Linked DNA regions of Homo sapiens: all the other regions are reported to be linked to region 5. Evidence: microRNA targets listed by miRTarBase, many of them from high-throughput screens and not tested one by one. Region 5 holds a microRNA gene; each other region holds the end of a gene's coding sequence.

Region 1 (4,078 bases), not on the chromosome of region 5:
TTGCTGGAATTAGTGATGATTCCTATAGTAGTTTTGAAGGAACAGAATTACTCAAAGGATCTGTAAGGAGCTATAACATAAGCTATTACCCTTGATTTTTAATGTAAACAAACTCTCTGGCCCAAATCTGTATTTAAATGAAAGTGGCAGAATTTGACAATCTCATAGACTCAGTATGATTTTATGATGCTTTTGTGACTATGTTACATTGAAAGCTTGGTATCTTTTAAAGCTGCCTCATTGGAAAAGGGCACAGAAGGTGATTTCAAAGTTACTTTAATTTAATGACCACTCTTATTCAATTGTTTTCACAGACCATAAACAGGACTGAAGAATGTCTGTCTGAATCTTTGCCTTGAATGAAGAAACTTCATTGAACAAGAAGTTGGCTTCCAGTTTGCACAGACGTCAATGGAATGCATTTTTTTGTTGTTGTTGTTGTTTTTTTTTTAGTGTTATACCTTACCCAATGAAAGCAAAGTTTTTATGTGCTGTGCAAATGGTCTTCATGTGGTCTGACAATTTATTTTTGCCATCATTTTTTTAATTAAAGAAAAAATTTCCAGAAGAGGAAAAAAAAACTACAAAAAACAAAACATTGAAGGTTGATATTTTATGTGGAAGAACATTTGAATTGAATTCAGAATTTTTCTGAAGGTGTAGATACTTTTTTTTTTTTTTTAACAGAAAACCTGATGTCAAGAGGTGGGCAATAGAAATGGAAACAAATTGTCTTCCTCAATAATTAAGCTACTTTCTCTTTTTCCCTTCTTGTTTTAATCTAGTGGGTTTTTTATTTTATTTTTTCTTAGAAATATGTAGGTAAGGTTTATCTTGAATCTTAATTGCCTTAATTTTAAGGACGTCAAAGGCTCTCGAGGCAAGCTGTCAACGTCTTGTTGAAAACAAAAATCAAGAAAGAATTGAAATACTGTGCCGGCTTTCACTGGCACAGAAGTTTAAGACTATGAGTTTTTAGGGTGAAGAAAAAACTGTACAGTTTAAATGAAAATGTTTTTCTTCATTTGAAGAAAATTTGTTGATAAACCATGGCAACTGCAAGAATTGGAAAAATGCTGGGACTTTTCATGAACTTTGTCTTAAGTGTTGACATGAATCATTCTAAAAGGCTAAAACATTTTACAGTAAAGTTATTAAGGTTGGTTTAAAAACAACTGCATTAGAAATAATGCGTGTTTGGGGGGCAGAATGCAGATTTTTTTAATTTACAAAGCGTGATCGCTAGCAAAAGCATTAGTGCTTTTTATCTGCAGTCTTTTTTATGAGCTTTACAAAGTTTTTAGTCAGCTTTGCTTGTCACATTGCAAAACCTAGCTTAAGAGCATTAAAAAAAAAAACTTAAGTAGATAGGAGCTTATGGTCAAAAAGTGCAAAAAAAAAAACAAAAAAAAAGCAATAGATAGAGAAATTGTTGACAATTTCTGTAGTCTTTCCTAGTTGTGATCAAATTCAGCCTATGGATGGCCTATTTTATACCAAAGATGAAGTGACACCCTATTACAGTCCAGAAGATAGAGGTTGTTTTCGTTTCTTTTCTTTTTAAAAAAAAAAAAATTTATTTGACCGACATGGCCGGACCAGTTCTTTCTTTGTTGTTTGTTTAAACTACCTTCCACTGGTGTTTTACATAGTGCAAAAAAAAAAAGAGGGTGGGGGGAGTTGTCTCTCTTTTCTTTAAATGTGTATTCATTGATAGCAGAAGCTTGTACCTGCTGTGTTTAGCAGTTTCAGCATGAAGAGTTCTGGATATGAACTGATTCATAGAGCCAAGTGGCTTTAAATTCTGTGAGCTTTTCTGGTTTCTCACTAGCTGTCTTGAATAGTGAAACCTGTATTGATGGCCACTAGTAAACCAAGATGCTTATTTAACAGGTGGAATATTCTTTATATGAAATTTCAGCTAAAGACACTTTCTGGACCTGGTCTGAAAGGTCATTTGTCAAAAAAGCTTAGGGATATTCTGTGAAATGGTGAGTGGTCTCCTGGAAAGGTCTCATTGTATTTGAACAATAGTCTTCCCTCTAAATTACAACACCTCTGGGTTTTGTCTTTACACCTCTGTCTTTGTCATCACCTACCATGAATAGTCACCTTGGTTTTGCAAATGGGGAGGGGGTATCATCTTTTTGCCTGTTTTCACTGTATTTTTGTATATTGGTGTTGCCGAAAGAACTTTTTCTTTCAGTTTAATTCTTTGAGGCATGTAGGACCAATAAGATTGAGAATTCTATTGGTGGAATTTAGGGAAGTCCTTAAAATGCTAGTTGACAATCAAGGAACAGTATGATTTATATCAATAAGAACCAAAAGAATTAGGTTTGATCAATCATTTAAGCCAAGGAGGAATACTTGCATTTAGAACAATGCAAAACTTTGTCTAAAATGAATTAAATTGACCCACCTGTAAAATATATCTACATTTTTAATTCATGAGATGATATGTGTTCAACCTTTACAGTTTTACCTGAAATTAAGGACAATGGAATAGAATTTGTTAAGTGAACCATTCACTAGATTGCTTTCTGAATGAATCCTTTGAATCAAATAGGTGAAACTCTTTTCAAAAACTAAGTCAGTCACAGGAGCCTGTCTTAGTCCAAAAGAAGCAGGGAAATGTATTTAAGTGTACTATAAAACAGGGTAGGCTTTTTAAAAACTAAAAAGTTTTAAAGGTAAATCATATTCCCATTAGGTCAACATGAGTAATAAGGTTGACTCATGTGAAATTGTCAATATTCTACTATTTCTGTAAACTCTGGTTCTCTTATTTGCAACCCCATGCACTGGAAGCCCAAATCAGAGAATGACTCCATATATTTATGGTCACATTGGAGACAAAAGTGTATCCAAGAAAATGTAGTGTGCGTTATAGAGAAATTCCAACTGGTCACACTCACCATTATGGTTTTTCATGCTTTAGAGAAAATGCTAGATTTATACTGTCTTTTGTTCCATCCTTCAGCTTCCCATGCATTATAAAGGTGGCACTTAAGTTTTTATCTTTGAAAAGTGGGCCCCAAAGTTTTTTGGGGTACAAAAAGACATGTATGAGAACCATATTTTCTGTTTCTCTTTTTCACTCTCTAAACTCTTTTTGTATAAATAAGGATTATCCTGGGCATAATTCATTTGAATATGAAACCAACATACTTTCTTTCATTTTTGTGAAAAAATAACCAAAAACATGTATTAATGTGATACAAAGAAAGTCTCATTCACACAATCAACAATGAGGCTAAGAGGTAGCTACCATGTGGCTAATGAATGTGCCTAGGTAACTTCCTGTTTCTATTCAAAACTGCTGCTTTATTTGTACATTCAGAAATATTTTTTTCAACTATGAAATTTCAATATCAATTTTTTAAGCCAGTTTCTGCAAAAGGAAATGACCTGTCATTTGATGTGTTCATGTGTGTTTTGTGTTTGGATAGTTTATATCATGCCATTCTATAAAATGTATGTTTTCAAACCAAAAAGAAAAAAAATAGAAGGAAAACAACGGCACATACTCAAATTTGCCCTGCTTTGTCTGTTGTCTTACCTAAGACTTGTTTTGAAGAGCCAAGTCTGGGAGAGAAAAAAAAGCATCAACAGGTAAGCAGCATTACATTGTGTGGTAATAAACCAAAATAAGTTTTCAATATATACAGACAACAGAATTCAAATTTAATCAACAAAATATATTGTAGTGATTTGTTTGTTTGTTTGTTTGAGACGGAGTCTCGCTCTGTCGCCCATCCTAACTAGGACTATAATCTTTTTTTTTTTCTTTAAGTTGAAGTTAATTTTCTGTGCATTCTGGTCCACCAGATTTTCAAGCATTTATTTGGATGTTTCCATTTTTCCTTTTGACTTTAATAGCCAAGACTTAGCTTAAACATCAGGAAACAAACTAAAGCCACAATCCAAATGAGAGAAACACTGTCTCGTCTAAACTCTAGTTTCATGGTCAGTGCAACAGTGAGTTTTCTTTTAATAATGGTATGGTATTGTCAAGGGAGGCAAAGTGTTCATGGTAACTTGGAGCTCCCCAATACATGGCCATGTCTTCTAAAGA
Region 2 (4,078 bases), not on the chromosome of region 5:
CTCCCCGTCCAAAGGTTTATATTGGCCCTTCCCCAAGGGCAAGCTTTGGTTATATGAAAGAAGAACTTACATTTAATAGCTGATCTAATATGATTAAAAAGAGAATGTTTTCTATTTAATTCACTAATATGCTCTTTCCTCTTTTTCCGTCTAATGGCTTTGTCTTTCTCTTGTTTTTATAGGCTTTGGTGAAGCACGTGCAGTCTAAAGGATACCCAAATGAACGTTTTGAACTTCTCACCAACTTTCCTCGAAGGAAATTATCTCATCTGGACTATGATATTACATTGCAAGAGGCAGGCCTTTGTCCTCAAGAGACTGTCTTTGTACAGGAAAGAAATTAACACCATGGCTTGACCTCTCTCAGCTTACCCCTTTTTTCCCTTTTCCTGTGAGATACATGTCACTAAGTATGCATTTTGGCTCATAGGACCACAGAGCCAAAGTTGGGCAAGCAAGTCACCTTCCTTCTCTTATTTCTTGATCTCTCCTATAATCAGTCTCTTTCTCCCCCTTTGTTTCTTTCTCCTCTTCTGTTTTCTCGCTCCCCACTCCGTACCCTTCTGCCTCCCCCTCCCCCCACACTTTTCTTTCTTACCTAATCTGGTGACCAAACTGAAGTGTAAGGATAAGACCTCTCCTAGTACTAGCAGCAGGAATTGTGTGTTCCAGTAAGTGGTCTCTTGCACGGCACTTTTTTGGGATCAAATGTTAACGTTACTCCCCAGACTCTTCGGGCAAAGGAATGGCTAGATTCAGAGTAAGAACAACCCTCCCTTTTTTGTAAGTCCCCGTGTTTAGCAGGGAGAAGAAATTCTCTAACATGGGTTTGGTTTTGTTGTGTTCTTCATGTGGAAATGTCGCTTAACAAAATATCCAGGCTTTTGTTTACGTGGAAAAAGCATCCCTTGTAATGATTGCTCATCATACTTAAAAACCTTTTTCAAAGGATTTTCATGTTCCCAGCTATAAGGACTATTTCCATGACATGTGTTATTGGCAGAATGAGTGTTAAATATGGAGCATATAGCATGGGGTGACTTTCATTGTCCTAACCTGAGACAGTTTTCCTTATTACTCTGTATTGATCCTGCTAGTCCAAGAATGGACATGAAGTGAACCTATCGTGGTGACTGGGATAGGAAGGTGCTTGCTATTTTTGCCAGCACAGCATATTAGTTCCTTTGGAGCCCTCCATTGTCTGAGTCTGCAGTGATCTGTAGGAAGGCAGCTGGTCAATAATCATGTAGTACAATGGCTTGGAATTGTAACCACTATGGTTATTGATTGTCCTGTGTTGTTTCAGGCATACTTAGGTATGTCCCTGGGGAAAAAGAAAACCATTCAGCTGAGAGTTGCTAACCATGTTCTTTTGGTTAGAAATAATGGTTCATTTTTTGCCCCTGGTTGGAATAGTCTCTAAAAGGCTCTGGTGACTGAATTGAACATGAGTCCGCATGCTGTTTTCTTTCAAAAGGTATCAAAACGGAAAGCCTCTCTAAGGGGAAGACCTTTCAACTCCATTCAGAAGACAACATTTAGTAAGGAGGATGGCGGAGGTTACTAGTAATTTTCAGATGTCTTGGGCTTTTTCTGCCAACAAAACCCAAAATCAAATTAGAGTTGGTGAAAGCTTTCTTCAGTGTTTTTAGAAGAGGCCATCTTGAATCTGTAGAATACCATTTACACATCAACTTCACCCTATGCTCATTTCGTATTTTGAGCTTAAATGGAGTCCTCTGAAGGGGGGGTAGTCGTGATTCTGGTGGCAAAACTAGAACTTTTAACTTGTAAAATGAAAAATATTAAATGGACCTTTTTGTCAGTTGAGGATTTAGATTGATTCTTTTATCTGAGGAGCGTATGTTCCTCAGATGTTGCGTAGAGACCTTTAGGTTTTCATCTACTTTAAGATTGCTCTCTTGGCAATTAGGGGATTTGGGAAAAGAAGAAAAAAAGATGCCATGTGTTGCTAGTACACAGTTATAGGATATGGTTTCTAATGGTTGAATTTTGAGGAACTCTCCCTAAAGAATGAGTTTTATATCTCCTCAAGGAAATCATGGAAAAATCTGTTTATTCTTCAGTGAGTCCTTTTGAATTAATGTTCTTAAATTTTTTTCTAAGTCTGTGTAAGTGCTTATGTATAAGTATATAATTGTATAAATATTTATAAATATATTTATATAATTACGGTTTCATTTCTACCTTGAGTCAAAGTTCTGTCTTTAGATTGGTGACTGAGTAATACTTACACTTTGGTGTTTTTTCTTAGGTTCTTGAGGCTTACTTAACTAGCAGCTTCTGATTTATTGAGTGAAAGATGGTTTTCATGTTAATTCCTCAGTTGCATCTCTGAACTTGGATAACATACTTGCCGTTTGAAAAATAGAGCTGTATACTGTCAAAGGTGCACTGGAGGGTAAAACATTTGTTGGTAGTAGACAAGCTCAGAAATCCAAAAATTCAGGGAGGGCACAGGGTAAGAAGAGAGGTTTGCTCAGCTTTGTGCTCTGATGGCACCCATCTGTACTCCAGCAAAGTCATAGCTGAAGCCCAAATCGCTCAAACGTGTGAAGTCAATCATTTTTCCTATAGGGCTCTGTTTCCTTTTCTTTACCTTCTAGCTTCTCTTGATAAAACAGTTGGGAGAACTGCCAACGTGTTCATCAGTGAGAGGGTGTGGTTCTTTCCGATATGTTCAGCACGTGCATATTCATTTATGAGAAACCAAAGTAACTTCTTCAACTCGGGTTACTGTGGGATGATTAAGTAGATATAAAGTGATTTAAAAGACAGCATGGTACTTTCACTCAGCTTAACATGCAGCTGGGATGTCTACAATACAAGATGTGGTGGGTTTTATTTTATTTTATTTTGAGGCAGGAGTGTAATTATCTTAGGGTTGATATAAAGGCCCATGGGAAGAGTTACGGATTGTACATGGGAAGAATCCATAAGGAGTATTGCCTTGCTCAAGAATTTAATCCGCTGACAGTATGCTTCTTCCAGTTTGCCTTACTTCCTCTGCAAGTTTCTTTGCTCCTTAGGGCAGAGGTTTTATTGAATAGATTAAATGAGGTCAGTAAGATTAGTTAAAAATAGTCATTCCTTGTGGGTGTTGGACACAGCTTGAAAGGAGTGTTTAAAAAAAAAAAGCTAGGGAGGAAAAGAACAAGAAAGATAGACTTCGAGAGTGATAAGAGAAAAATACAGGGAGATGGAATGGAAACTACCAGGAAGGCCGGGCGCGGTGGCTCATGCCTGTAATCCCAACACTTTGGGAGGCGGAGGTGGGCAGATCACCTAAGGTCAGGAGATCGAGGCCAGCCTGAGCAACATGGTGAAACCCCGTCTCTACTAAAAATACAAAAATTACCTGGGTGTGGTGGCGTGCACCTGTAATCCCAGCTACTCAGAGGCTGAGGCAGGGGAATGGCTTGAACCTGGGAGGCAGAGGTTGCAGTGAGCCAAGATCGCACCATTACACTCCAGCCTGGGCGACAAAGCGACACTCCATCTCAAATTTAAAAAAAAAAAAGAAGAAGAAGAAGAAAACTAGTGGGAAAAAAGTGAGAGGAATACTTTTTTGAAATTGGTATCGGAAGGAACTGGAGAAGAGAAAACAACAGTGCCAAATGAGAAAAGAACAGGAAACTTAATACTAATTGGCATGCACCAGATACTTTTGTGTACATTTGCCTCTTCAATCTCCCGAAGAATCGTACAAAATGTATACTTTCTTCCCATGTTAAGAAAACAGGTATAGAGAACTTATTCAGGACTCATAGCTAGTGAGTGGCAAATCAGAATTGGAATCCAGAGTCCATGCTGTGGTCTCCTTCAGCAAGAGAATCAAGCTACCCAGATGATTCTCTTCTCATTGTTTGGCTTTGTAAAGTGTCACTTAGTTTTGTTCCCATAAATATAGAGGAAGTAGTTGGGTTAAAGTTGTGGGATTTGCACTATGCCTATACATTTTTATTTATGCCATTATTTTGAGAGGCTGATTATTGCTTTTTTAAAATGATGCACTGGTGAAGATGTGAAAGTAAAATTGCCACGTGGCATTATTTGC
Region 3 (4,078 bases), not on the chromosome of region 5:
GGTGGAGTGGGCTGAGGACTAGACTGAGCCCTCGGACATGGAGGTGGGGATGGGGCAGACTCATCCCATTCTTGACCAAGCCCTTGTTCTGCTCCCTTCCCAGGCTCTGTGACTGGGGCAACCTGCAAGGAGCTGGCCAGCCAGCCTGATGTGGATGGCTTCCTTGTGGGTGGTGCTTCCCTCAAGCCCGAATTCGTGGACATCATCAATGCCAAACAATGAGCCCCATCCATCTTCCCTACCCTTCCTGCCAAGCCAGGGACTAAGCAGCCCAGAAGCCCAGTAACTGCCCTTTCCCTGCATATGCTTCTGATGGTGTCATCTGCTCCTTCCTGTGGCCTCATCCAAACTGTATCTTCCTTTACTGTTTATATCTTCACCCTGTAATGGTTGGGACCAGGCCAATCCCTTCTCCACTTACTATAATGGTTGGAACTAAACGTCACCAAGGTGGCTTCTCCTTGGCTGAGAGATGGAAGGCGTGGTGGGATTTGCTCCTGGGTTCCCTAGGCCCTAGTGAGGGCAGAAGAGAAACCATCCTCTCCCTTCTTACACCGTGAGGCCAAGATCCCCTCAGAAGGCAGGAGTGCTGCCCTCTCCCATGGTGCCCGTGCCTCTGTGCTGTGTATGTGAACCACCCATGTGAGGGAATAAACCTGGCACTAGGTCTTGTGGTTTGTCTGCCTTCACTGGACTTGCCCAGATAATCTTCCTTTTTGAGGCAGCTATATAAATGATCATTTGTGCAAGAAAAAAAAAAAAACAAGAACAGGTTTCTATAACAACATCTCTTACTATTTTTACTTGAAAAAATGTTTTGCGTAGCAGACTGTCATAGCCTTGAACGCCGGCTCCCTTTCTTCCTCCCTCCAAGTGGCTCTGGGGCTGTTGATTTCCGCAGAGCTTGGGTTGGGGTAGGGGCTCAGCCTCACCAGCTTTCAGCAGCTGGTCTAGGCCAGCAGTGCCTCCCCACCTCCCCAAGGGGAGGGGTGGTGGCAAGACCTCAGCACAGTCTGTGGTATCACAGGGCTCACTGGTAGAGCAGGTAGCGCTTCATGGCAGGGGGCAAGGGCAGGGCAGACACCTGGCCGAGCCGGGTATCCCCCAGGTTGTGGCGCACACACAGGCGGCTCAGGTGCAGAAGGGAGTGTGGCTCCGCTGGGAGAGAGAAGGAGGGGAATGTAAGTATGGGTGCAGCCACCAGCCAGATGTCCTCAAACTACGGGGTCCTACTCAGATGCCTTTCTGCTTTCCTGCTTCGAGTGTGCCCACCTGGCTGAAAGGGGAATTTGAGATACCCGGAAGTTCTGCCTCCCAGATAAGATTTCACACATCCCTAGTCAGAGCTGGGGGTGAAGAGCTGGCTAAGGCCCTCTAAACAACAGGCCAAGGTGGCTCTGACAGTGGTGGAGCTGGCCCAGGCTTTGACTCCAGAGGCTTGGGAGCTGGGGCTGAGGTGAGGAGGGATGGCCCTCCACTCTACAGCCCACACAACTGCAGAGAGCAGCTCCAAGCCCTGGACCCAGTCAGTTCCTGGGGAGGCTCCTCCCCTGCTGCCCCACCCTAAGGCCCTGCCTCCTCCACTGCTCTCCTCCCTGGTGCCCAGGGCCCCAGTGTCTCCATCCAGAGGTGTGGCTGAGGAAGGAAGTAGGTATGTGGCACAGAGACAGGTTAGAGCCCAGGGAATCCGGTATACAGCCTGGGTACCTGGCTCTGCCCATCCTTCTTTTGGACCTGTACATCAAACCCAGTACCTAACGCTTTGCACCTCTTGCTCAGGGGTTGATATCTCCTGAATTCTCTCATCCCTGCAGTTCCTCCCTCCATTCTGAAGGTTCACCATTTACTGGCCAAGAGAACTTGAGAAAGTTGCTTTCTCAAGCCTGTTTCACCTCTATTGCTGTTGGGTTAAATTAAATAACAGCTGTGAAGACCCCTAGCCTTTCCCAGCACTGAACAGAGGTTGAGGCAGGCTGGATGAAGGTCCATCCCCTCTGCTCTTGTCAGAAGAGTTTCCATCCCAAACCACTGCCACCAGGGACAGAAAGTTCTCCCCACGTCTGCCCCAGGCCTCACCTCTCCTTTCGCCCAGGTAGCGGATGCGGACCTGGCACTGGCCCCAGACAGCGCTTACTGCCGGATAGAGGGTCCTGCCCTTCAGTCCGCGGAATGCTGGCCCCAGGTAGGTGCCCCCAATAGCGTAGCCCAGAGTTCCCTCCTCCATGTCCAGAACCACCAGCAGTCTCTCTGGCACCTCCAGCTGCTCACCCTGAGTTCCCGCTGGATACTGGGGGGCTCCGGGCCCCTTGCTCTGATGGTACAGCTTCCCCCGCCCGATGTCCCAGCCCCACGACTCGCTGTTGCTGCCCAGCAGCGCCGCGTAGTGGTCAGTCTGCAGCGGGGCGAGGGCCGTGGCCACGCCCACCACGGCATGCGTGCCCCTCTGCTCTAGGGGCCAGCTGATCTCCCAGGCGTGCAGGCCCCTTGAATAGCCCCTCTTACCCCGGGCCCCATCAGTGCTCTGGGCCACGGGCCGCCGCTCAAAGTACAACCCTCCTTCCTTGACCTCGATGTTCTCTGAACAGTCTTTGGGGTTCCAACCGTGGCGCCGCTGGGCCCCCAGGTCAGGAGGGGGTGCAGACAGCAGCTCTTCCAAGCCCTCGGGACAGGAGAGGTCAGGGTACAGGGCCTGTGGCGTGGGGGTGCTGCTGCTGCCCCCTGCCAGAGCTGTCTGGCCCATGGAGGTGAGGAGCTAGAGGACTCCCCGAAAGAGGCTTGCTGGGGCGTCTTTCTCTTCTGAAAGTTGAGCTCCAGTTTGGATTGACCTGGAAGGGAGCTGGGAGAAAAGGGGCGTGAAGAGCAGAATCCTGGCGGGGGCTCGTCACCCAGGTACCCCATCCTTTCACCCAAGTTTGCCAACGGGCCCGCTCCTCCCTCCTCGCTGCCCCAAAGCTCCTGGGCCCTTCATCTGCCCTCGCCCCATCTGATCCAGGTCGCCAGAGACTCTCGCGAGTTCGCCCCATTTGGGCCTCAGCATGGACCATCCCCCTTACTCGCCCGGAGCCCTCGCCGCTGCCCCCGAACCTCGGTTGACTTCCCAGCCCTGGAGGTCGCCGGGCCTCTGAAGGAGCCGGGCGGAAAGAAGCCGAGGCGCGCAGGGCGCAGACCGCCGGCCGCTTCCGCCCCCAGCTCCTCCCTTGGGCCGAGCCCGTCCCGCGGCCCCGCCCCTCCAGGGCCCTCTGGGGCTTAACCCTCTCATCGCCGCCCACGGCCGTGCAGCTCCGAGGCCACGCCCCTGTGGGGCCCCGCCCCCTCCTGGGCAGTTACCGCTCTATACCGGCAGCAGCCGCGGAGAGCATGCCCCGCCCCCGTGGAGCCCACCCCGGGCGGTTAACCTCGGGTCTCAGTCCCGGGCTGTGACCCTCCCCGAGGCCCCGCCCCCACGGCGAAGGCCCGGGGCAGTTAACCCTTCTCTTGCTGCGGCAGAGTCCGCACCCGGGCAGGCCCATCTCAGAATTAACGCTTTGATGGCATCACCGCGTCGGGAATCCCTGGGGATGGTGTTCTCCACCGTCAAGACCTTTGAGCCGCCTGAGCGACTAACTCCTGCGCCCCTGAGGGTAAGGAGCATGGGGTCAAGGAGGGGCTTCATTGTGCCGAATCCCATTTCTACTTCCCTGTGATTCTGGGTCACTGTTTCTGGGCTGGTCCCTTTCTGCCCCGGGTTGTGAGTCAGCCTGTGCCACCTCTGAGGCTGTGAAATCTGCTTCAGGCTCTAGGCTGTACGCATCATAGTTCTCCCTGCTGGTCCAGTCTTCATACTGGATGCCAATCCATTACTGAGCCGTTGATCTCATTTGGTAGAGTGTCCTGATTAAGACTTCGAGTTTGAGTGAAGCTATGCCACTAGTTAACTGCGCGATCTTGGGGAAGTTGCCCGATTTCTCTTTTTTTTTTTTTTGAGACAGGGTCTTGCTGTCACCAAGGCTAGAGTGCAGTGGCGCCATCACAGCCCACTGCAGCCTTGACCTCCTGGGCTCAAGTGATCCTCCTACCTCAGCCTCCCAAGTAGCTGGGA
Region 4 (4,000 bases), not on the chromosome of region 5:
AAAAAGGATCGGCTGCTTTGTGGACAAGGGGCTGTGGAGCAGACACAATGACAGACCAGATGAGAGGCCATTACAATAGTCCAGTGGTTAGAATCCTCAGCCCTCAGTCTGGTAGGTAATGATGGTATTTGTTTCCAAATATATTAAATGTACATGTGAACTTATTATTTTTTAGGAAAGTCGTGACAAGTGCTACCTAATCCAGAAACTAACAGAAGCCCAAAGGGACATGAGGAACTAACTAGACTGAGCGTGAAGATGGTGCTGCCTGTTGCTTCTAAGCTGACCTAGTGATTCTGCTGAGCCTACAGAGTCTACCTGGGTTTTGAGTGGACATTTAAAAATATATTTTTCTTGAGTTTAGGCTTTTCCATATGTGCAGCTGTGTTTACCTAACCCAGCCCTTAATTAGGGCTTCAGTGACTTAGAAAAGCAGGGGAAACCCAAGGCTTTGCCTGCAGACCGGCCACTCTGTGACAACTCTACCAAAAACCAACAAGCCATTCAAGCTTTTACAAGAATGAAAGAGCGGAGACGGTAGTTTAGTATTTGAGCCACGAGTTTATGTGCACAAGTGTTTTGGGTTGTGGACTGAAGCTCAGCCTGTTAATCAGACCAGCCCATGAGTGTATAACAAACAGAATTGGAGGCTGGTTTCTTAAACACACACGTCCACATTTTTTAGGGTTGTTTTCCTGTGCTTACAATTTTTAATGCATGTGCCTTTATTTCACAAAACATGTGGCTGGGCGCAGCGGCTCACGCCTGTTATCCCAACACTTTGGGAGGCCGAGGCAGGCGGAGCACCTAAGTTGGGGAGTTCAAGACCAGCCTGACCAACGTGGAGAAACTCCGTCTCCACTAAAATACAAAATTAGCTGGGTGTGGTGGCACATGCCTGTAATATCAGCTACTCAGGAGGCTGAGGCAGGAGAATTGCTTGAACCCAGGAGGTGGAGTTTGCAGTGAGCTGAGATCACACCATTGCACTCCAGCCTGGGCAAAAAGAGCAAAACTCTCCCTAAAAAAAAAATGTAGAATATCTCTTAAGATTTCCGTTATGGTAAAAACCATATGCAATAAATACCTCATTGTAAGCTTACCCAAAATTGATAGATGTCAACCTTTTAACAGAAGAACAGAAGTTTAAGTTATTGTTTAATGTAATCAGTTTTCATTTTAATATCTTTGAAATCTTTTTCAAAGGACTGTAGTTTTGTAATGGACTTTTCAAGCCTTCCTTCCATTGTTTTTCTTCCGTTCACTGGCTCCACACGTTTCCTGGGGAGTAGCCTGGAATTTAAAGTTGGGTGCAGGTTTTAGAAAGCTGTTGCTGTTAACAATAATTCTCCCGGCCATCTCCACTCCACTACTCAAAAATGCCTGAATCCTTGCTCAGAGGAGCAAAGGTATCTTCTCGTCCCTTTCTTACAGCCATTTTCTTGCTTTTCCACAAAGATATTATTTAAAGTGGAATATTTTTGTAACTGGGATACCAATGAGCTTTTCGGTCTTTTCCTGACTTGGTAAGGTTTATGGGTTTCTAAATCTAATAACTACAGTCATACCACCCTGAAAATGCCTGATCTCGTCTAAATCTAATAACTGGTGTCATGGAATTTTGAGTAACCAAAGATTCATTCCAGTCTCACTTAAAAAAATAAATTCTGCTGGGCACAGTGGCTCATGCCTGCAATCCCAGAACTTTGGGAGTCCAAGGAGGGCAGATCACCTGAAGTCAGAAGTTTGAGACCAGCCTGGTCAATGTGGCAAGACCCCGTCTCTACTAAAAGTACAAAAATTAGCCAGGCATGGTGGCGTGTGCCTGTAATCCCAGCTACTTGGGAGGCTGAGGCATGAGAATCACTTGAACCTGGGAGGTGAAGGCTGCAGTGTGCGAGACCGTGCCACTGTACTCCAGCCTAGGTGACAGAGGGAGACCCTATCTCAAAAAAAAAGATAGGTGAAAAGAAAAAAAAAGTTGTAATTGTAAACATTTCTGCCCAGTGCCTTTATATTTATATAACATTTTCACTGTGACCAGACTTGATGATATTCAAGTTTTCTATTTGTGTGTGTGTGTGTGTGTGTGTGTGATGAACACAACGAAAACGTACTGCGTTTTTTTTCCTATTATAAAAGTGATACTGAAATATGCTAATTAATATATTAATTTTAGTTAAATGCTGCTAATATGCATACCTCTTACTTGAAGGTTTTTAATATGTTTTGATAACTTTAATAACTTCAGGTGATGTCTGTATAACTTTTAAAGTGCAGCTCTCTCTAACAAATGTGCCTTACAACTCCTGATTAAACGGCGTCTTGAAGGTTTTAAAATGTGATCGTGTATACTGGAATTCAAAGAGGCTTCTTGTCAGCAGTCAAGTGATGATGGAAAACTGTAATAGTTTGTAAAGTTCCTCTTTGCTTTTTCCTAAAATGAGAGAAAAGAAAGAAGTGTTTAATGTAGTCCTCAGATGAGTGCTTTTAAAGCTCCTTGGCTCTGTTGAAGCCAAGGAGGGTGTATGTGTGTAACTGCCCAACTGGTTCATTTTGCCCGCTGCCTGGATACAGCCCATTCATCAAGACAGAGGAATTGCAGCAGAGGAATTGCAACAGAGAAAGCGTTTGATACATGCAGAGCTGGCTAAACAGGAGACCAGAATATTATTATTACTCAAATCAGTCTCCCTGAAATTTTGGAAACTGGGTTTTCCTGTGTATGTATTTTCTCTCTCTCTCTCTGTGTGTGTGTGTGTGTGTGTGTGTTTGAGACGAAGTCTTGCTCTTGTTGCCTAGGCTGGAGTGCAGTGGGGTGATACTGGCTCACTGCAACCTACACCTCCCAGGTTCAAGCGATTTTCCTGCCTCGGGCTCCCGAGTAGCTGGGATTACAGGTATGCGCCACTACACCCAGCTAATTTTGTATTTTTAGTAGAGACGGGGTTTCTCCATGTTGGTCAGGCTGGTCTCAAACTCCCGACCTCAGGTGGTCTGCCTGCCTCGGCCTCCCAAAGTGCTGGGATTACAGGCGTGAGCCACCGTGCCCGGCCGTGTTTTTTTTTTTTTTTTTTTTTTAATATGTAGTCTCTATTGCCCAGGCTGGAGTGCAGTAGTGCGATCTCGGCTCACTGCAAGCTCTGCCTCCCGGGTTCACCATTCTCCTGCCTCAGCCTCCCGAGTAGCTGGGACTACAGGCGCCCACCACCACACCCGGCTAATTTTTTGTATTTTTAATAGAGACAGGGTTTCATCAGGATGGTCTTGATCTCCTGACCTCATGATCTGCCCGCCTCGGCCTCCCAAAGTGCTGGGATTACAGGCGTGAGCCACTGTGCCTGGCTGTGTTTTTTTTTTTTTTTTTTTTTGAGATGTAGTCTCACTCTATTGCCCAGGCTGGAGTGCAGTAGTGCGATCTCGGCTCACTGCAACCTGGGTTCAAGTGATTCTCCTGCCTCAGCCTCCCAAGTAGCTGGGACTACAGGTGTGTGCCACCATGCCCAGCTAATTTTTGTACTTTTAGTAGAGATGGGGTTTTGCCCTGTTGGTCAGGCTGGTCTTGAACTGCTGACCTCAAGTGATCCTTCCACTTCGGCCTCCCAAAGTCTGGGATTACAGGGGTGAGCCTCCGTGCCTGGCTGGAACTAGTTTTTTTAATGGATAATTTGGTGGGTAGGGGGATGGAATTAGGGAATAGTATGCATTTTTGTTTTTTAAATTTTGTTTTGCCATTATAAAAATACTTGTTTTTTATAGCAAATACAGAGAACATCAAAAGCAACAGAGAAAAAAACTTAAAAAGCAGCACTTATGGGCACGCACTGTTAATCCTGGCAAAATTCTTTTTAAGATAGAAAGTACAGAGGGAGGGAAAAAGAAGGAAAAAGAAGGAAAGAACTTTGGTATTCTAATTTCTTTTTCACTTAATATGTGTTTTCCTGAAGAATCTAGTGTTTTCTCCTGTTATTAAAAGCTCTTTACAAACATTTCAATGGGC
Region 5 (4,078 bases):
TTTTACACGTAGTTCAAGATAGCTTTTGGGAAGTAAATCTGATTTATAGCTAAAACGCTATCTCAAAAACATTCTTTAGAGCAGGATTTTTCTTTCTCAAAGGCTGGAATGATTATTTTGGACGTATTCCTCTCTGAATCTGTTAAAATATAAAGTGTATAAATGCCAGTATGAATTTGCCAAATATTGTGATGGAACATTTAATGCTGGCAAAGTTTCCACACAACTTGAAAAAAATAAGTGGGGATTTTTATTATTTGTATGGCGTCTTTTTATAGCAGATTAGTATGTGTTAGTGGCAAATGGTTACAACTAAGTAACAACTTAAAATTCGTGAAGATAGATGTTAGATCCTAGAGAAGAATCTAGACCTACCACACATGGTCAAGAGTTATTTTTAGACCTGAATGAGTCAACACAGCTTTTGCCAGAAGTGATGTTCTTGATTGACTTGTAATTGGTTAATGGAAGAGAAGGCAAGTTGGGCTTGCCCCTACATGATAGCCTTTGCTCAGACAAAAGAGGCAGCTTTCTGTGACAACTGATTTCAGAGGTGGCAGACGACTCATTTGCTAGTAACTCCCTTACCGTCTTACCACGGGGCGAAATCCTATTTCTAAATATTATTAAGAAATACAAAATAGCTCTTGTAACGGGTGACACATTAACCCAGCTTTTCTCAAAATATATTCCATAGAACATATATTCAGCATGGTTTGATAGGCATTATGTAAACAAAGATAAACAGGTTTGTATATTGAAAGACCTAACAGAGCTCTTAATAGGCTAATGTATGTTTCAAATCTCCAAGTTAGATTCGTACTGTATAAGATTTCCCAGGCTTTTACCATGGGATTTCCTCCTCTCCCGCTGGCTGGTGGCTCACACCTGGTTGAGGCAGGAGGAGTGCTTAAGGCTAGGAGTTTGAGATCTGCCTAGGCAACATCATGAGATCCTGTCTCTACAAAAAAATAAAATTAGCTGGGCATGGTAGCATTTGCCTGTAGTCCCAGCTACTTGGGGGGCTTAGGAGGGCGCTTGAGCCCAGGAATTTGAGGCTACAGTGAGCCATGATTGTACCACTGCACTCCAGCCTGGGCGACAGAGCGAGACCCTATCTCAGAAACAAAATAACAACAACAACAATAAAAAAGGGAGCTTATCTTGGAAGTAGTGTTACACTTCCATTAGCCCATTATCATTCTTTATCATAGTATTAAAGATTCATTTGTCACATGAGACTGGATGTAGAACAAAGAAAAAAATGATTCAGTTGGCAATTCTCCAGCAGAGGGCCTCATACAGGGAGCTCTTCAGGGGTAGGGAACATATGTTTTCCATTTTTTCCCTCCATAAACAGCTAGTGTAGTGGTTTATGTAGAGTAGGCTTTTAAGTTTTGCTTAGAATCAGAGCATGATTCTGAGGCAATGAGGCAGAGGAGAAATAATTTTGTTTGTTTGCTTTTTTCTCTCTCTTACAGAGCTGAAAAGGACACATAATTTTGATGAAAATGATTAAAGTTAGACAAATGCACCACAATTCTTCTTTTATTGTTAAATAGCTTCATGCTTTTTACTTTTGTTCACCTCTTTTCCTTGTGTATGACAAGGGAATACGTTAAGAACACAGAACTCACAGGATCGCTGTGAGGCCAAAGTAGTGTAGTATATAGAAACACATTTAATGAAGTTGCTTACATCTGGTTATTAAAAAGAAATGCTAATTTGTAAATATTCTTTTTTTACTTTCAGTTGGTCTGGAAACTGTGCTCCATGGCCTTTACACTCATTTAGAGTAGGCACTCTTGGCTGCATCGTCACGTGAGATCTGCCTCCACCAATCCTGCCAAATGCTTTCCTCTTAGGATGCTGTTGCACAGGCTTAGTTGATAGCCCTGAAGGACTTTTTCCCTCTTCTTACTGTTTTATTTTTGTTCACAAATGTTTGCTTTTTTTTTTTTTTTTTTGAGATGGGGTCTTGCTGTGTCACCCAGGCTGGAGTGAAGTGGCACGATCATGGCTCATTGCAGCCTTGAACTCTAGGGCTCAAGGTGTCTCCCTCCTCAGCCTCTTGAATAGCTGGACTACAGATGTGAGCCACCACACCCTGCCTGTTTGCCTTTTATCAATTTTAAAATGTGGGACATTCTTGCTTTTCTTCAGTTTGACATGATGATGAACAATAATCATCAAGCAAGCTTGAATCAAGCAAGCGTCACTCAATAGGACACTCAATAGGAACAAAGTGTGCATCAGTATTTGAGAATGTCTTTATGGTTGTTTCTTTAGGTAGCCAAATAAATCTACGGCAATATCAACATTTTCATTGGCAATCTGACTTATTTTCCTAAAGAATTTATGATGAAACTGCTCCAGTCCTGACTAACTTAGTCTTTTACAGTCTCAGCAGAAGCAAAAGCTCTTTGAAACCTCCTTTCTCCCCGCTCCCTAACTTTCTTACCCCTGCTGGGGCTCTTTCTTTATGCTTCCATATTTCTTTGGAGAGCTGTAAAGAATTACAGTGTGGACTTTGATGTCAGGGGACTTGAGCTCAAATCCTGAGGCTTCTTATTTTTAGCTGAGTGTCCCTGGGCAAGTCAATTAACTTCTCTCTATCTCCCAAATTCATCACCTATGAAATGACAATAATGTGATGATTAAATGAGGTGGTAAATATAAAGTTCTTAATTCAATATGTGGCAACAATTATTATTACCTCATTATGGTATTTCCCACTGTTGGTCTACAGATAAATCTATAGACAAAATACAATCCCGGACAACAAGAAGCTCCTATAGCTCCTGTAGCTTCTTGTGCTCTAGGATTGTATTTTGTTTATATATATTTTTTAATCCTGAATGTCTAGTATTATGCTTGGGACATAGTGGCCACTCAGTGAATATGTTTGAATAAATGAAATTTCTCAAATAGGCAAAAATGCATATCATAAAACAAAGCCATGTTGGTCGATGTTGACATCATGCATATTAGCATGCCAGTAGTGTGATAACAAGAAAGGATAGAGATGGTACTTTTCTTTTGCATATGCTTATTTTTTGTGTGCACTGAATCCAGTTTTGCATAATGGAGAAATATACCAATGTGAATTACATGTCTTTTCAAGTTTCAGTGCTGAACTTGCTGTGTTTGTTGTCTCATATAACTGGACTAGTAAGGGGCTGTCTTCCTTTTGGAAGAGAAGAGTCTTCAGACATCTTAGAAAGTTAAGCTGCTTTTTAAGTGTTAAATAAACATTTTAAAGATAATTGGTAAGCATTTATTTAGTAAAATTTTGACCTTTAAAAACTCTGCATGAGACCTGAGTGTTGAAAACTAAGAACTGTGTGCTTGTTTTTAACACAGAAGATATGTATCTCCAGGTTTTCATTTTCCTTTTTCTCATGAAATGGTATTCAAATCGTGCACTTTGAAATGCCACAGAGGAGGAGGTTTATCCGAGCTACGTGATGGGTCAAATGAACTTAAATTTGAAACATGTTTAAATTTGCCCTTTTGTTTCCTTCTCATTAATTACTGGAATTGCCGTGAGTCCGTTGCTCTGTGAACGTTTCTCTTTCTTTGAACATTCAGGATATGGTGTTTTGTAAGTGATCTAACAGCCAGCTTTTTCTAATAAAACATGGCCTAAGAGAAGAGCCTGTTTGTGTTACTAGTGTCTTTTATGATTTTCAAATGATTTACCCACTTCTTTAACTGTCCCTAGATGAGTAATCTTTGAAGGGTAGGGTGGCACATGTGGAGTATTAAAGAGATGGCTGTTAAGCAAAGATAAATGAATTACTTATGATAATACACCGTGGAACAACTTTCCACTACTGGTAAATATTTTGTTTTCTACAGAAATCTCTTTACTATCAAATCATTGCTAAACATCATAGTTCTATAATAATCCCCTCATTTGAAGACATTTCATTTCAAACAAAGGCTCATTATTTTAAAATGGATGCAAATTGTTTATTTTCTAAATAAGCCTAAATATAACTTAAATTCAGGTTGCTAAAAAACCTCTTCCTGGCCGGGCGTGGTGTCTCACACCTGTAATCCTAGCACTTTGGGA
Region 6 (4,076 bases), not on the chromosome of region 5:
AGTGAAGACCTTGGAAGAGACAGCACAAAACTGCACTTGATGAATTTTACTGCAACATACACAAGACATCCCCCTCTCTTACCAAATGGCAAAGCTCTTTGTCATACCACATCTTCCCCTTTACCAGGAGATGTAAAGGTTTTATCAGAGAAAGCAATCCTCCAATCATGGACAGACAATGAGAGATCCATTCCTAATGATGGTACATGCTTTCAGGAACACAGTTCTTATGGCAGAAATTCTCTGGAAGACAATTCCTGGGTATTTCCAAGTCCTCCTAAATCAAGTGAGACAGCATTTGGGGAAACTAAAACTAAAACTTTGCCTTTACCCAACCTTCCACCACTGCATTACTTGGATCAACATAATCAGAACTGCCTTTATAAGAATTAATTTGGAAGAGATTCACGATTTCACCATGAGGACACTTATCTCTTTCAGTGGTCCTCCCAAGAAATTATTTAACAAACTGAAAGGAGATTTTGATTAAAATTTTGCAGAGGTCTTCAGTATCTATATTTGAACACACTGTACAATAGTACAAAAACCAACATAGTTGGTTTTCTAGTATGAAAGAGCACCCTCTAGCTCCATATTCTAAGAATCTGAAATATGCTACTATACTAATTAATAAGTAAACTTAAGGTGTTTAAAAAACTCTGCCTTCTATATTAATTGTAAAATTTTGCCTCTCAGAAGAATGGAATTGGAGATTGTAGACGTGGTTTTACAAAATGTGAAATGTCTAAATATCTGTTCATAAAAATAAAAGGAAAACATGTTTCTTCAAATTGCATAATGGAACAAATGGCAATGTGAGTAGGTTACATTTCTGTTGTTATAATGCGTAAAGATATTGAAAATATAATGAAATAAAAGCATCTTAGGTTATACCATCTTTATATGCTATTGCGTTTCAATATTTAAGATTTAAAGTGATTTTTTGGTCACAGTGTTTTGTTGATAAAATTTTTTTAGAATTGAAGTTTGAATTCTAAGACTTGAAACAACCTGATCACTGAAGCCAACTTTGTCCCAGCACATTCCTTAAGTCCTAATTGGGAAAAAAAAAAAAAAAAATGAAATAGTTGAAAAACTCTGGGGTGTAAACAAATGATTGTAACCCTACACACTATTCAATAAGTAGTAGAAGGAGCATCACACAGATTTCAGTCTAATCTGCCCTTCTGTGGGCCATAATATAAACATAAATGTGTGTAATGATAAAAAGTCATTTTCTTCAAAGAGACTACAGCTAGCTGCACATTGTGTAGAGCAGCTTCTAAATTGTTAGACTTTGTGTTGAAATGTAATATTCTATTTATTGAGAAAGTGATTTAAAATTATTATTTTTAATCATAGAAATCAGGGTTTGGGCTGTATTGATATTGTCGATCATGAAATGTCCACACTTATTCTAAGTGGCCAATTATTTGGAAATAAAGAAGGAAATAAAGATGGCTTCACATGGAAATTTAAGTTCTTTCAGGGTGGAGATTTACTTGGTTCATACACCTTTTGCCTGAATTAAAGTATTTCATGTAGGAGGACTTTTATCCTTTTTGATAGACAGTTTCATATATCTTGAACTCAATATCTCAGATCTCTTCTACTGTATTACTGAATAGCATACATACATAGACAATGTTCGCCATTCACTAGATATTTTTTTCTATTATCTTACACTTATTCAAGCTTGTCTGTGATTAATGGAATTGGTGTCAGATGCTGGAATTTATTCTGACCAATGAACACAGCTGACTCAGGGGAGTACAATCTCCTGCCAAGTAATAGAACCAAACCCAATATGCATAAAAGAAATACAATACTCCAGGCTTTAGCTGAAGGAAGCAACTACCTGTGTAATAACAAAGCAGCAAAAACTATTTCTCATGTGGCTGCATAGGCTGTATATTATATCTGATCTCTAATGTAGCTTACTGGTTTGCCTTTTTTAAAACCAAAATTGGAAATTTTCCTTTGTAAAGAAAAAAAGTCTTATGAGATAATTGCTTGATTAATGTTTTGAACAATACCAAGAAATTGTTTAATTAAAATAAATATTTTTGTTTGAAATTGAAGTGGATGTGAAATATTGTCCTTGCCTATAGATCTCAAAATCTAGTACTAATTGTTGGTTGTTAATATGATTCATACAATAGACATTTGTTAAACCAGCTTTTGAGTGGAGAAAATTATTTTCCATTTAAACAGTACAGTGATGATAGCTATCAAACAGGTATACTAAAAAGTCAGTGACTGTGACAGTTTAAAGTGTTAGACAAATGATGTATAAGGTTCTTTAGTAAGGAAAGATTAGCCAAAAATTTTTTACCCAGCTAGAAGCTTTTAAATCTACACTTGATATCTCTGTTCTAGGTAAAATTCAAACAACCAAAAAACAGTGGCCCATCTGTAGCTTATGAATCTATTTAAAATTGAATATTTTATGTTGACTTCTTTCATACTAGCTGAAACTTGCTCTAAAGAGCTTCCTTTGGAATCTTTAGATTTCTTTTTATAAGGTTCAATTCAGTACATCCATAAATCGACAGAATGAAGAAAACATAACAAAAAGCCACCTATTCCTTCCTCTTGCTCCCTTATTAGCTAAAGTAAAATTTACATCTGTAAGACTTACTGAGTTGCTGCCAAAATGGAACTGAATTCTTAAAAGCAGGAACATGCCTATGTGAAACATTAGAAAACCAAAATAAATGGGAAAATTCAGACTTGAAGAGCTGAATCATGTGACAACAAAGTACTGATCTTAATTCAGAAAGGCTACTTGGAGAAGGTGTATCTTAAGGGGTAAAAAACCTGTGGGTTACCACATATTAACAGGGAATAATATCAACAGAGGCACCCATAAGCAAGCAAGACACAACTGAGACAGATGTACCAGGTGAAAAAAATCTTCAGTATGGATACACATGGGTATTCTGAAGGCTACAATGAATGGTTTAGTCTTTGACATAAGGAGGATGAACATATTATTTATACTGTGTAATCTAATCTGGCTTCTATGGGGAAAGCAACATGTACATAAGTGAATTTTCTACATGAAGTGGGCTACTTCTGATTTTAATCAAAGCTATAAAATAGATTGTATATTTCACTAGCTTCTTAAAGTAACTCTTCCATTTTCATTTATCTCTAAAAACAGTTAACTTCCTGTGCTCTAGGAAATGCACCAATACCAAAGGTCAATGTGGAAATATGGGCATGTTTGCCCCTATGCTGTGTGGTCTCTAGATTTCTATATTTGCTTTGCTTTTGTCTGCTCTAGTAATCTCCCTCCTTTTGATCTGTGGCCTGGGAAAATGTGGTTTCTTTGTATTTCAAATAAAAGTAAAATAGTTTTTTGAGTGGTTCACTCAAGAGTAAAGTGTGGAACTTGAATTGATTCTTTAGTGTCCTATTTAAATTCTTTCTTAAAAAAAAATCTCTCAGATCTATTGCATGGGATTAGGGAAAGTTAAACCTTGTCTTAGTGGGTAGTAATTTCTATTTGTGATTTTAATGAGGACTGTGAAAATATACGTAAAATTTACTTATCTTGAAACTAGTTACAATGGCTGTGGAAGAGTTAACAGCTCATGGGGAAAAAATAACTTTTAATATAAAAGCTCAAATTATTAAATTGGGACATAAATTTTTTATACTACTTCCTGAGTCCATTACTATGTTACAGAATGGTAATTCACTTAGAAATATAACTTTTCAAAATGAAAGATTAAAGGACTAACAAGTTATCAGGTTAAGAACATTATGTTTTAGAAAATTCTACATCAAAGATGTAAGTAAAATTAATTCATATAAGTAGGTATCTCCTTATCTATGGTTCTGCTATGGTTTGATGTGTCCCCCAAGAGTTCATGTGTTGGAAACTTAGTTGCTAATTTAACAGGACTAAGAAATGGAGCCTTTAAGAGGTAATAGGGTGATGAGGCTGGAGCCCTCGTGAATGGATTTATGCCATTATTACAGGTATTAGTTCTCAAGAGAGCGGGCTGTTATAAAAGTTTGCCCACACTTGTTTGTCCTTCTATTTTTTACACCCTATTATGTTTTGA
Region 7 (4,063 bases), not on the chromosome of region 5:
AGAACAGGGCTGGGGTGCTGAACTCACCCTTGGGGAGGACTCATTATAGCATCCCTGCTTTTTCTCCATTATCGTCCAACTGCCTAGGCCCAATTTAATAACATGCTGCTTGTCTCCCTGGAACCGCCTGCCCACTCTATACATGGTTAGCACTTCCCTCCCTCCTTTGGTCAATGTGCAGCTTCCAGGCACGTGAGGTTTAAACACACACCCGCCACCCCATTAGCCTGTCTTCAGCTTGTGGTGACCACGTCACCAGCCCCCAGGTGAGAGACGAACTCTTAGGGCCCTTCTCACCATTCTCCTTCCTTTCTGGGAGTCCCTGATTGATCCCGCAAATAAAGGGCAGGGACCTGTCTCCCCACTGTCTGTCTGACTGGATTTCTTTTCACCCCTCAGCCCCGATTATCAGAACTCTAGCCCGAGGCATGAAGCTGACATGCCTTCCGTGGTCAGTGGGAAGTCAGAATGCTTCCTCAGAGGAGACCTGGATTGCCAGGGAAACCTGGTACTCACACTGCAGACCCTGCTACTCACTGGGCTCAAAGTTTCCCAAACACAGAGCTTCTGAGACAGAAGAGAGAGGCTGTCTCTTCATGTCTCTTTACCCATAAAATAAATGAGTAAAGACCCCTGGTCCCTGCCCCTCTGGTTCCAGGTTCTGCTCATGCGCGTGGACAGTAGGAGTCTCACCTTCCCGCAGTAATCCTTGCTCTTGAATCATCTATTTGCTGTCTCACTTACCTATGATGGGCAAGTCCTGTTCCATAACTGACCCCAGTATTCCCACAGAATCACACTCCAGCCTGGAATCTGACTGCCTTTCCCTCCTCACCACCTGGGCCATGAGCTCTGGGAGCAGAGGTCTGGGGACCCACCGAACAGATCCATGTGTTCCAAGAAGCCCACAGACTCCTTCACACCACCCCAAAGGCCCCAGAGTTCAGTCCAGAGGCCATAAGGGCAGCAGCCTATGGGGAACGAGGCAAAAACAACACCGGGACCCCATGGAAGCGAGCGATGTGGACTCAGGAGACCACACAAACACTGTCCTCTATGGCAGCAATTCAGGTCTCTTGGGCAGAAGTAGGAGAAAAGGATAAAATGGCCAAGCAGAGTCAGAAAGTTTTCCTATAAGATCCATGCCTGGGCTTCTCTAGAGAGCAAGACTATAAAATCAGTCAGCCAGTGCGGAGCCCACTCAGAGCAGACAGTAAACTCGGGAAGGGCCTTCCCCTCTTTCTTGATGAGAACCAGCACTGGGTTTGTGCCTTCTGCTGAGTGTGCCATGGGCCAGAGGGCATCTGATGGGCCCCGGCAGCCAGTCCACTCTCGGCACAGTAAGCTGCAAATCTGGTGATTCCGAAGAAAACAAATGTCTTGTCACAATCTGGGTCTCCAACAGAAACCTGGCCAGGCGTAGTGGCTCATGTCTGTAATCCTAGCACTTTGGGAGGCCCAGGTGGGAGAACTGCTTGAGCTCAGGAGTTTTAAACCAGCCTGGGCAACATGGCGAGACCCTGTCTCTACAAAAAAAAAAAAAAATACAAAAACTGGCCAGCAGTGGTGGCTCACGCCTGTGGTCCCAGCTACTTGGGAAGCTGTGGCAGGAGGATTGCGTGAGCCCGCAGAGGTTGCAGTGAGCCAAGATCGTGCCACTGTGTTCCAGTCTGGGTGACAGAGCAAGACCCTGTCTCCCCCAAAAAAAGAAACCTGAGAAAGAATTTCTCAGTGCTTGAAAGGATCTGACACTGGAATTCAAAATTTACAGCCCTCTTTATTCCGAAGAGTTTTTTTTGTTGTTGTTTGTTTTTTCTTTTTAAATCACTTCCCTATAAGCCCTCAGCAATTATTTCTAGTTTTGTTTTGGAAGAAATTTTAATGACATTCACTGCAACTCCCAAGCCCCATCCCACAGCTTGTGAGGGGCTGGATTCTCATCCACTGGACTTGGCACCAATGCCCTGTAAGCATGTGCCACTCTACGATCTTTCAGTGGGTTTTCTCTGCTGCCAAGGGGATATTCAGTGCCATTTTGCCACCTGCAGATCAAGAGCTCTCCCAGACTGACAGTTCCCAGGACGGAAAAGCCTTAATACAGGCACAGCCTTGGTAGAAACAGTGAGCCCTTCACATGGAGATGAAGTCTTAAAGGTTTGAGCACCATCTTCTGGTCAGTTTTTGGCTTCTGAGGCCGACTCTGCTTTAGAAACTTCATTTATTTCAGAATGGCAGAACCCTAATTGACAAGCTCAAGTGATCTGCGTATCAAAATGTGGACAGGACCAGAAGCAGGTGTAGTCGGCTGGGATGAGCTGTCCCAGGCTGGCCGGAGCTGGCGCTCGCTGTGGAAACCGTCGGGGCTGCCTGCACAAAGCCGGCAGATGCCAGTCAGTGGGCGTGCTGGTCAGTAAGGCTGTGCCTTCTGCGCTTCAAGCAGGGTGAGACCTGACCATGTGGGAGCAATAAAAGCTTCCATGGTGACCAAACGTGACTCCTGCCTCTGTACATGGCAATGTGAGATGTGCCTGGAAGGAAGGGGTGGCCCCATCTCTGCCAGTGTGGGATCCAACCAGGCACTCCCCTCCACAGGGGGTCAAGCCACACAAGGTGGCAGACAGCCCTGCCTGGTGTGTAAACACCGCACCAGCAGACTCCAACCTTTGGCATGGAAGGAAAAGAAGATAAATGCTAGTCATTCTCTCCAAACGGCAGGAACCTACATCTATCTAATTGCACTTCATAATGGATTCCACAAACCATTAATTATCAGATTATATTTTAGGAACTGAAGATAAAAAAAGCTTTGTGAAATTCAAACTCCAAAGGATCACTGACCTGCAATAAGTGTGGCGGCCTGCGGGAGGTGAGGCAGCAGGCCACTCACAAGGCAGGGAGTGGGCGGCAGCAGAGCCACGGGCAGTCACGGCTGCTCCTCCACACGCAGACAGGACTGCCTGCCTGGTGCTGGTCACAGTCTGCACCATATGACCCAGAGGGAGCCAGGCTGCCAGGTCAGGCAGAGATTTCAGCCTTTGATTAAAGGAAGGGGATGAAGATGACACGGAAGAGCTGTGGGAACCAGGCTTCAGGTAAGGAATACCAAGAAGAATGTCCTGGAAAGGCAGACACTGTCTAGCAGCTGATGCCTCACATTAAACACTTCCAGCAGAAACTCCAGAGCTTTGTTTTGGGAAGAGCTGACAACTGACAAGGGGTTATCAGGCATGGAAATGAGGGCTACCTGTCCTATAGCCATCAATAGGGTGCTGGGCGTGGCCACTGGGTGGAGGGGGAACCCCAGCAGAGGGTAGGATGATAGGACCGAGGAAGGGGCCAAGTGTGCCTCAGGAAGGGGCCTAAGGTCCCCGAATTGTCTGTTGGTGCCCCTCTCACTTTAAATGGCCAGAGGCAGTGGCAGCATTTGCAGCCCCCACTGTGGGCCAAGTCCCATATCTAACTGCCATTCTGCCCACTGAGCGCTGTCGGCACATCATGCCTCCTGGGGTACCCTGGTCACCAGCTCCCATCCCACTGCTCTTTCAGACTCTACTTCTGAAGCCACATGTCACTTGGGGATGGACAGTGTCATAGAGGCCGCAGCAGCGGGCCTGTGGGGAGGGAGGCCTGTCTGCTACAGAGGATGGTGCTGTTGGTGTTGAGGGCTCAGATGCTGTTGGTTCTATGAGAACAACGAAGCTTCCATCTGTTTTCTAGGTGAGACTGTGTTGGTTGGTGCTAAGCTAAGATGCTCACCACTCAGGACAGCCAGGGATGGAGGGCAAAGGGCAAGCTGTGGGGCCTCCTCTCTGCTGCAAACGCAGGAAGGCTCTGCCGGATGAAAGGCTGCTCATTTGGCCTCACCACAGATCAGCGTCACTGTGCCATCCAGCAAGTCCTCCACAGTCACCGCCACGAGCTCAGAGCTGGCCTGAGATGCCTGAGAATCTGGCAACGTCACAAACACCTGCGACCCGGCAAGCTGGGTCTCCTCCAAAGTGATCACCTGCTCTGTCGGGGCCACCGGCTCTGGGGTTTGGATCACCTGAAAGAGAAAGACCGT

The links. Region 5 holds the annotated microRNA hsa-miR-578 (CUUCUUGUGCUCUAGGAUUGU, at 2,808-2,828, shown strand). A microRNA usually pairs through its seed, bases 2 to 8, with sites in the 3' UTR of a target mRNA and lowers its output. Matches are read on the target gene's strand: a 7mer-m8 pairs with bases 2 to 8, a 7mer-A1 pairs with bases 2 to 7 and ends in A, and an 8mer does both.
Region 1: miRTarBase lists RBMS3 as a target of hsa-miR-578. Seed matches in the 3' UTR shown: 7mer-m8 at 378-384, 7mer-A1 at 914-920 and 7mer-A1 at 2,869-2,875.
Region 2: miRTarBase lists UBXN7 as a target of hsa-miR-578. Seed matches in the 3' UTR shown: 8mer at 3,175-3,182.
Region 3: miRTarBase lists TPI1 as a target of hsa-miR-578. Seed matches in the 3' UTR shown: 7mer-A1 at 747-753 and 7mer-m8 at 763-769.
Region 4: the mRNA of TMC7 is a reported target of hsa-miR-578. Seed matches in the 3' UTR shown: 7mer-m8 at 515-521.
Region 6: miRTarBase lists AZI2 as a target of hsa-miR-578. Seed matches in the 3' UTR shown: 7mer-A1 at 451-457 and 7mer-A1 at 2,037-2,043.
Region 7: the mRNA of ZBTB40 is a reported target of hsa-miR-578. Seed matches in the 3' UTR shown: 7mer-A1 at 1,240-1,246.

Annotation. Positions count from the first base shown.
Region 1 is chr3:30,003,542-30,007,619 of GRCh38, forward strand. RBMS3 (RNA binding motif single stranded interacting protein 3) reads left to right here. Exons shown (of 15, transcript NM_001003793.3): 15 at 315-4,078. The coding sequence ends at 321. Among named protein-coding and RNA genes, the nearest start is that of RBMS3-AS1, 71 kb to the left of the region's middle.
Region 2 is chr3:196,352,951-196,357,028 of GRCh38, reverse strand. UBXN7 (UBX domain protein 7) reads left to right here. Exons shown (of 11, transcript NM_015562.2): 11 at 183-4,078. The coding sequence ends at 344. Among named protein-coding and RNA genes, the nearest start is that of TM4SF19-DYNLT2B, 17 kb to the right of the region's middle.
Region 3 is chr12:6,870,162-6,874,239 of GRCh38, forward strand. TPI1 (triosephosphate isomerase 1) reads left to right here. Exons shown (of 7, transcript NM_000365.6): 7 at 104-787. The coding sequence ends at 222. SPSB2 (splA/ryanodine receptor domain and SOCS box containing 2) reads right to left here and starts at 3,142. Exons shown (of 3, transcript NM_032641.4): 1 at 3,085-3,142; 2 at 2,077-2,836; 3 at 774-1,158. The coding sequence starts at 2,740. The coding sequence ends at 1,031. RefSeq lists enhancers at 560-1,145, 2,472-2,711 and silencers at 1,802-1,921, 3,102-3,551.
Region 4 is chr16:19,061,603-19,065,602 of GRCh38, forward strand. It overlaps TMC7 (transmembrane channel like 7), which reads left to right. Exons shown (of 16, transcript NM_024847.4): 16 at 176-2,340. The coding sequence ends at 241. COQ7-DT (COQ7 divergent transcript) reads right to left here. Exons shown (of 3, transcript NR_119381.1): 2 at 2,203-2,437; 3 at 1,152-1,293. Among named protein-coding and RNA genes, the nearest start is that of COQ7, 4.0 kb to the right of the region's middle.
Region 5 is chr4:165,383,495-165,387,572 of GRCh38, forward strand. It overlaps MIR578 (microRNA 578), which reads left to right and starts at 2,748; the gene lies at 2,748-2,843. All of the region lies in intron 1 of CPE (carboxypeptidase E), which reads left to right.
Region 6 is chr3:28,320,359-28,324,434 of GRCh38, reverse strand. It overlaps AZI2 (5-azacytidine induced 2), which reads left to right. Exons shown (of 8, transcript NM_022461.5): 8 at 1-3,388. The coding sequence ends at 393. It overlaps CMC1 (C-X9-C motif containing 1), which reads right to left. Exons shown (of 4, transcript NM_182523.2): 4 at 1-4,076. Among named protein-coding and RNA genes, the nearest start is that of ZCWPW2, 26 kb to the left of the region's middle.
Region 7 is chr1:22,526,184-22,530,246 of GRCh38, reverse strand. ZBTB40 (zinc finger and BTB domain containing 40) reads right to left here. Exons shown (of 18, transcript NM_014870.4): 18 at 1-4,045. The coding sequence ends at 3,851. Among named protein-coding and RNA genes, the nearest start is that of EPHA8, 35 kb to the left of the region's middle.